Homo sapiens: one gene and its partner. The protein of the gene in region 2 purifies or fractionates together with the protein of the main gene of each other region. This does not show direct contact. Each region holds a gene or a part of one and is shown on either strand. Other genes may lie near its edges.

Region 1 (3,812 bases), on a different chromosome or scaffold from region 2:
AGACAGGAGGGGACCAGGAGGGCGCCCTCCAGGCTGAGCGGAGACTTTTACTCTGTGATTGACAACAGTTCCTGGGCAATCCTAGATCAGTAGTCAGAAAACCTTAACTGGAAAAGAGAATGCATGGCGTTTTCATTTCTCTGAGGAAGCCGAGAAACTTTAATTAGGTGACGGGGTTCCGAGCACTTAAGCAGATGGGGTGCGGTGAAGGCCCAGGGAGGAGGAGGGCAGGGAGGTGCACGTCCTCTGTGCCCCACACACTTTCAACCACTGCAACAAACAAGCACCCAAGAGAGGCTGTGCGGCAGAGCCCTGCACCCACAGGCCTTTGACAGCACAGTGAGGGGCCTCCGCACGTGGCCTCGGGACGCTCACTCGACGCACACCCGGTGCATCACACTGGCACCTAAAGACAGGCCGTGCAGCTAAAAGGAGCACGTGTGGCCAAGGAGAGCAATCAGCTGTCCCGCGTTTCTAAAGGCAGGGACCGAGGCTGTGGAGGGGCGAGCAGGGCAGGCCGGCGGAGGCTACTTGAGCAGCTTGGCCACGTTCAGGCTGGGCACCACAATGTCCTTGAAGAGGGGCACGTAGCTGGGGCTGGCCTGTGCTGGGCCCTGCTCCAGGGTCTCCATGATGGTCTGCTTCATGTCACGGCTGGCGTCCCCACGCACAGCCAGCAGCGCACCGATGTGGTCATCCCTGGGGATGGGGAGATGTCAGCCCATGCCCACTTAGCAGCCCTGTGATGCACCACGCTGCCAGGGACTCACGGCTTCACCACCCCAGCTGACAGAACACAGGGGGTGAGGACCGCTGCAGACAAATTGCACCTTTCCCTTTTCAGCGGGAGACAAGCCTGCATTTTCATCTTACTCTGTCTTTTCTCAATCCAATTGCAGAAAGATTTTTCAACACTGCTTTTATAAATCTTTGTTCCGGCCCAACCAGAGGGGAGACCGTGGAGAGCTCAAGACCCCGTTTTTCCACGTTTAACCAGCGAGATGATGGGACGGAGGTGACGCGGCTGCAGCCATGGAGGTGGCCCCTTGGGGAAGTGGCAGGTGCCCTGAGACAGGGGCCGCAAAGGCTGGCCTGGGGCCTGGAGCCAGCATGGTGGAGGGGGGACGTGCGTGGGTCCCCTTCCCTGGACCTGGTACTGGGGACTCCCTGTAATCACGTCCTCGGAAGGTGTCTGGTCCAAGCTGCACTTGGGCCCTCCCGAGTCCACCATGAGCACAGAGGAAACTTCCTAAACTCGCCCCACTGAGGCCACTCCACAGCCCAAATCTTCCCCACCACACACAGCAGAGCTGTCACAGCCCCGCCCCCACCCCACTGTCCCCACCCGGGATGTGCCCCTCGAGCTCCACCCACCCACACTGTAGCCCAGGCCAGGTGGAAGGCAGCACAGAAGCAGCTCTGCTCCCTGCGCCTGGGCCCCGCTGTGCCGCACCTGAACCCTTGCCGTGCTGCAGGGCTGAACTTGCGAACCAGGAGCCCCACCCGCCCCAGACAGAAGGAGGGACCTGCCGCTCCACTCCAGGATTCTAAGGCAGGATTCTAAGACGTGCATCCCTTACCTGATGTCTGGATACTTGCTGACCAGAGTGGAGACCTCCAGGTAGAGCAGAGAAGGGTCTGTCAGCTTGATCACTTCGGCCACAGCCACGATGGTGTCGCAGTATCCGTCCACGTCTTCCCCGAAACCCTGGAAGGCAGCAGCAATGTGAGGAGCCGCCCTCGGCTGTCCCGCGGCGCTGGGAGCAGCTGGATTCTGGCTGAGCCCCTTCCTGACTGGGAACCTCCCTCTTCACCTGACTCCTCAGGATCTACTCTGAAAGCTCAGTGACAGGGCCAGGGGTCTGGGGTGAGGGCGAGACCGTGGGAGGCAGCCAGCACCTCGCAGCGCAGGACAGACTGGGAAGCGTCCGTCAGGGAGCTGTGGGCGGCCTCGGGAAGCCGGCGGGGCCGGCGCGTCTACCTCTGTGGACATTCGTGTCCAACCACAAGGTCAGGCAGGACCTGGACCCAGGCTCCCCCCGCCTGACAAACACACGACACACTCCCATCTACTGGCCCGAGTCCCGGGGTGGAGGCTGAACAGGGCCGCGGAGCGACAGGCCTTCTCCAGCCCGGACCTGCGCGACACTCACGGACGCCAGCTTCCGGAACAGGAAGCGCAGCTGCTCTGCCTCCCTAACCATCTTCTCGGCACCCTCCTTGCGCTCCTCCGGGCTCCGGAAGGAAATGCGCTTCTGCATGACCGCCCGCAGGTACTCCACCACCACGCGCCGGTGCGCCTCGGCCGTCATCCTCTGGGGAGACACGCGCGGTCAGCGGCAGGCTCCACGGCTCTGGCGGCCAGGAGCACCCTCATTGAAACCCAGGCTGGGGCTCCCGGTGGCTCCCCGGAGGCTCTGAGCCCACTCCTCCTCGCTCCGCCACGGCTCTGGCATCTCACCGCAGAGGAGGAGCGGGGGCTCAGTGGGGGAACAGTGACGGTGACCTGGACCCCCGCACCAGGCCAGCTCCGGCCCCCAGCAGGACAGACGCGGGCGAGGCAGTGCCGCGCATGAGCACTCGGTCCACAGACAGGCCCGTGTCAGTGGCTGCTGCTGTCCTTTGATAACGACCGCAGCATCTGGAAAACGCGGCAGGCACTTTGGAGGAAAGAGGAACCTGGGTCCTGCAGGAAGGAGGGTCTGAAGCGGAAAGAAATCCCTGGGGCCTCAGGGAGTGAGTGGAAGGCAAGGAGCTAAGACGGGGCACGCGGGCCTCTCCGGGAACCATGGCTCCCTCCACCTCGAGGGCCATGCCACAGGGCCCCGGCCATTCTCACCAGAGCCCCGTCCCAGGGAGGTGGCGTCCGCAGAGCCTATTGCCTCCCTTGGGCTGATAGGACAACAAGTGAACGTTCACTCACGGAGGGACTCGCTGGATGCTGAATTCTGAGCAGGGTGAGAGGTGAGCCCTAGCGTCAAGGTGATGAGGGAACTAGGTCCCACCTTCTTACCTTCTTATACGGCTTTTTAATTTTGGCAAAATCGTTGAAATAGTCTTCCACGGTGACACAGATAATGTCTACAGCGTTTGACCCTAATAGCCACTTCTTCGTCATCAATTCATTCAGATGTTGCTGAAAAGCAGAAACAGATCATAGAAATCATCACCTCAACGTCCCACGAGAGCCGAGTGCATGTGGGAGGGAGGCACTTCCTCACCTCAACGCCCCACGAGAGCTGCGTGCAGTGTGGGAGGGAGGCACTTCCTCACCTCAACGCCCCACGAGAGCTGCGTGCAGCGTGGGAGGGAGGCACTTCCTCACCTCAACGTCCCACGAGCACTGAGTGCGTGTGGGAGGGAGGCACTTCCGTGCATCTTTGCTACGTCACACTGCTTTTCTAATTACAACAGCAATGCGCACTCAGGTAAAAATTTGATTATATAATCTGCAAATGTGTACTTTAAGTATAGGAGATTTATACTACAATTTCTGTGATGAGCTTCCCAAAATGACATGTTAAAGATGGAAATATCTGTGCATGTATACATTTTACCTTTAGTGGCTACATATATTTATCGTATTTATTTGCCCAATTCTCTATTGATGGACATTTAAATTTTTTTCACATTTTGCAATAATGCAACAGTGAATCTGTATAATTCTGATGAAATTCCTTAAAGTTGAATTTTTCAGTCAAAAAGTATACACATTAAAACCAATAAAAGTATACAAATTAAAACTCCAATAAAAGTATACAAATTAAAACTCCAATAGAAGTGTACAAATTAAAACTCCAGTAAAAGTTACA
Region 2 (3,812 bases):
TCGTGAGACTGAGGCAGGAGAATTGCTTGAACCTAGGAGGCAGAGGTTGCAGTGAGCCGAGATCGCACCTCTGCACTCCAGCCTAGGTGACAGAGTGAGACTCTGTCTCAACAACAACAACAACAAGACGGGGTCTCACTCTGTCACCCAGGCTGAAGTACAGTGCTGCTATCATAGCACACTACAGCCTCACACTCCCAGCTCAAACAATCTTCTCACTTCAGCCTCCCAAAGTGTTGGGATCACAGGTGTGAGCCATTTCACCTGGCCAACTGGTTTCCAATGAACCACTTTCTTTCTACTCCTTTTCATCACAGTACCTATATGAATTTTCTGCCTCAATGCAGCTTTCCCAAGTTTACTGAGGCATGATTTTTGAAGAATGACATAATTTTATGCCAAAATTAAGACAATGAAAGGCATTGAGATTCAAAAATTCAAAGTATGCTGGGTGCAGTGGTTCACACCTGTAATCCCAAAACTTTGGGAAACCAAGGCAGGAGGCAGCCTAGACTACAGGGAGAGACCCTACCTCAAAAAAAAAAAAAAAAGAAAGAAAGAAAAATAAATAAAAAAAGAAAAAAGTTGAAAGCATAAAGAGCCATGAGAGTTTTCTACCCATTAGTAGCTCATAAGCACAAGTTATAATGATGGTTTTATAAACAGATTGACCAAGATGAAAAAGAATTTGCAGCAATTGATTGATAAGGGTGAGGCACTGCTGCAGGAAGTAGAAGTCATTTAACTTTGGGGGACATCAATTTGACAACCTATCAAAGGCTTTCCAACCATGAACACCCTGATTTTAAGAAATTTATCTTGAAGCCGGGCACAGTGGCTCATGCCTGTAATCCCAGCTTTGGGAGGCCGAGGTGGGCGGATCATGAGGTCAGGAGATCGAGACCATCCTGGCTAACACAGTGAAACCCCATCTCTACTAAAAATACAAAAAAATTTGCTGGGCATGGTGGCGGGTATCTGTGGTCCCACCTACTGGGGAGGCTGAGGCAAGATAATGGCGTGAAGCCGGGAGGCGAAGCTCGCAGTAAGCCGAGGTTGCGCCACTGCACTCCAACCTGGGCGACAGAGCGAGACTCCATCTCAAAAAAAAAAAAAAAAAAAAAAAAAGGAAATTTATCTTGAGATAAATGCATAAATATAAGGATGTACTTAAATATATTCACTACAGCCCTATTAAGTGAAAAAGTAAAAAATGTCTCAATGCTCATCAAGTAATTTATTAAATAATGATATTCATATAATGGATTGAGATAGAACAATATTCAGAAAATATTACACTTTTAGCAAAAAATTACAAAAGAATATCCATTACACAGACCTTGTAACAGACGTTGCAATATCATATACTATGTAATGTATAACATTATGTTAACTTATCTCTGTCCAAATATATTTTGGACTCCTTGATCAAACTGTGGAATTTTGATTAGTGTTTACCTCCAACATAGACAGCATAAAGAATTGTAATCTTAGGAAATCAAAAAGCAATTTGGATGTCCAAAGAAAGACAATAAACTGACCAAAGTTTGTTTACTTATTTGGTATTCAGGAATACACTTAATATTTTTAGACTATAAGTAAAATCTTCATGCTTACCTTAAAAGTCAAGATAATGCTAATAAACAGAAGAATAATAAGGACCAAACAGGTAGGATTCACTGACATGACATCATCTCTGTAGGGAAAATTAGGAGGCTGCAAAAGAAAAGGGCCTCATTAGCAAATCTCATTAATCATTCCAGACAGTATTCCTTGGGCACCAATTCAGACATGCTTATCAGAAAGCAACTGATTAAAGCAGACAGCTATTATTTAGAACCAATACAAAATTTCTAGCCTGACTCTGCCCTCTTACCATATAAAAGACGTCAGTGATCGGTATCCAGGGACATTTTGTATATCCAGGGATCTCTGAAATTTGTATTCTCTGCAAGTTCTGAACCATTCCTTTTTTTTTTTTTTTTCTTTTTTGAGATGGAGTTTCTCTCTGTCGCCCAGCTCAGCTACTTGGGAGGCTGGGGTGAGCAAATCACTTGAGCCCTGGTGGTGGAGGTTGCAGTGAGCGAGATCATGCCACTGCACTCCAGCCGCCCGGGCGACAGAGCCAGACCATGTCTCAAAAGTTCTGAACCATTCTAAAGGGCATATGCAGGGCAAGGGACAGAAACCTACTAAAATGAGGTCTTCTTTGCAAAGAGCATTTTTGTTGATGGTACTTCTCCCAAGACAGCATATTCTCTTATACTAGCAAGTACTTCCAGGGTGGGGGGAAATAATCAAGCACTACCATCCACAATGCTTAACAACCAGGTCAAAGGGAACCTTTTCAGGAGGATCAAAGTCTGCTACTATGGTTAGAGGGAGTTGCCGGACTTTCCCCACAGAACACTCACACAGCATTGATCAACGCCTACATCACTGGCCTAGGCAAGTGAATGGGAAGGCAGCCTACTGTGCTATCTCATCTTTTATCTCCCTTCACCATTCAACACTATGTGTTTGGATTCCTCACGAGCAATATTCCAAAACAAAGTTGTTTCCAATGTTGAGGAAGAACATGGAGAAGGCCCATGACTCATGGGCTTGGCTCCTGCTCACCAGGGTGAACACCACCTAATGGTTTTCAGTCTCCTTTCACTTGGGACAAAATATCTAAGAAATAAAATCGTCATTCTTTGTGATCAGATCATGCAACTTTACTCTTTTATTAATAAAATAACTTGGCCAAGCACAGTGGCTCATGCCTGTAATTTCAGCACTTTGGGAGGCTGAGGCAGGCAGATTGCTTGAGTGCAGGTGTTTGAGACCAGCCTGGACAACATAGTCAAACCCCATCTCTACTAAAAATACAAATTTAGCCGGGCATGGTGGTGCATGTCTGTAGTCCAAACTACTTGGGAGGCTAAGGTGGAAGGATCACTTGAGCCCAGAAGATTGAGGTTGCAGGCTGGGCATGGTGGCTCACGCCTGTAATCTCAGCACTTTGGGAGGCCAAGGTGGGCGGATCACCTGAGGTCAGGAGTTCGAGACCAGCCTGGTCAACATGGCAAAACCCCACCTCTACTAAAAAAAAAATACAAAAATTAGCCAGGCATGGTAGTGGGCGCCTGTATTCCTAGCACTCTGGGAGGCCGATGAGGGTGGATCCTCTGAGGCTAAATGTTTGAGACCAGCCTGGAAAAGATGGTGAAACCCCATCTCTACTAAAAATACAAAAAATTAGCCAGGCTTGGTAGCGGGTGCCTGTAATCCCAGCTACTCAGGAGACTGAGGCAGGAGAATGGCTTGAACCCAGGGAGGCGGAGGTTGCAGTGAGCCGAGATCACAACACTGCACTCCAGCCTAGGTGATAGAGTGAGACTCTGTCTCAAAAAAAAAAAAAAAAAAAAGTAAAGTTGGCCTGGTACAGTGAGTCACATCTATAATGCCAGCACTTTGGGAGGCCAAGGCTGGAGGATCACTTGAGTCTAGGAGTTTGAGACAAGCCTGGGCAACATGGTGAAACCCCATCTCTACATAAGATACAAAAAGAAAAATTAGGTGGGCATGGTGGTGCATGCCTATAGTGCCAGCTACTCAAGAGGTTGAGATGGGAGGATCACGGGAGCCTGGGAGGTCAACGCTGCAGCAAGCCATAATCACACCACTGCACTCCAGCCTGGGTGACAGAGACCCTGTCCCAAAAATAAATAAAGTTATTCCAACCTCATAGCCATTATAAGCTTCTTAATACCCTGCCACCAATATTCACTCATATGGTCACAAAGGACATTTAACCGTAAACTAGTCCC

The links.
Region 1: the proteins of LAPTM4B (region 2) and EXOC3 purify together in Homo sapiens (co-immunoprecipitation; one study listed by IntAct). This does not show direct contact.

The regions. Positions count from the first base shown.
Region 1 is NC_000005.10:463,614-467,425, reverse strand, and holds the end of EXOC3 (exocyst complex component 3), read right to left. Parts: intron 3,137-3,812; coding exon 3,014-3,136; intron 2,316-3,013; coding exon 2,154-2,315; intron 1,709-2,153; coding exon 1,581-1,708; intron 700-1,580; coding exon 528-699; 3' UTR 136-527; downstream 1-135. UniProt on the Homo sapiens protein: Component of the exocyst complex involved in the docking of exocytic vesicles with fusion sites on the plasma membrane.
Region 2 is NC_000008.11:97,817,044-97,820,855, reverse strand, and holds part of LAPTM4B (lysosomal-associated transmembrane protein 4B), read right to left. Parts: intron 1,717-3,812; coding exon 1,618-1,716; intron 1-1,617. UniProt on the Homo sapiens protein: Required for optimal lysosomal function. Blocks EGF-stimulated EGFR intraluminal sorting and degradation.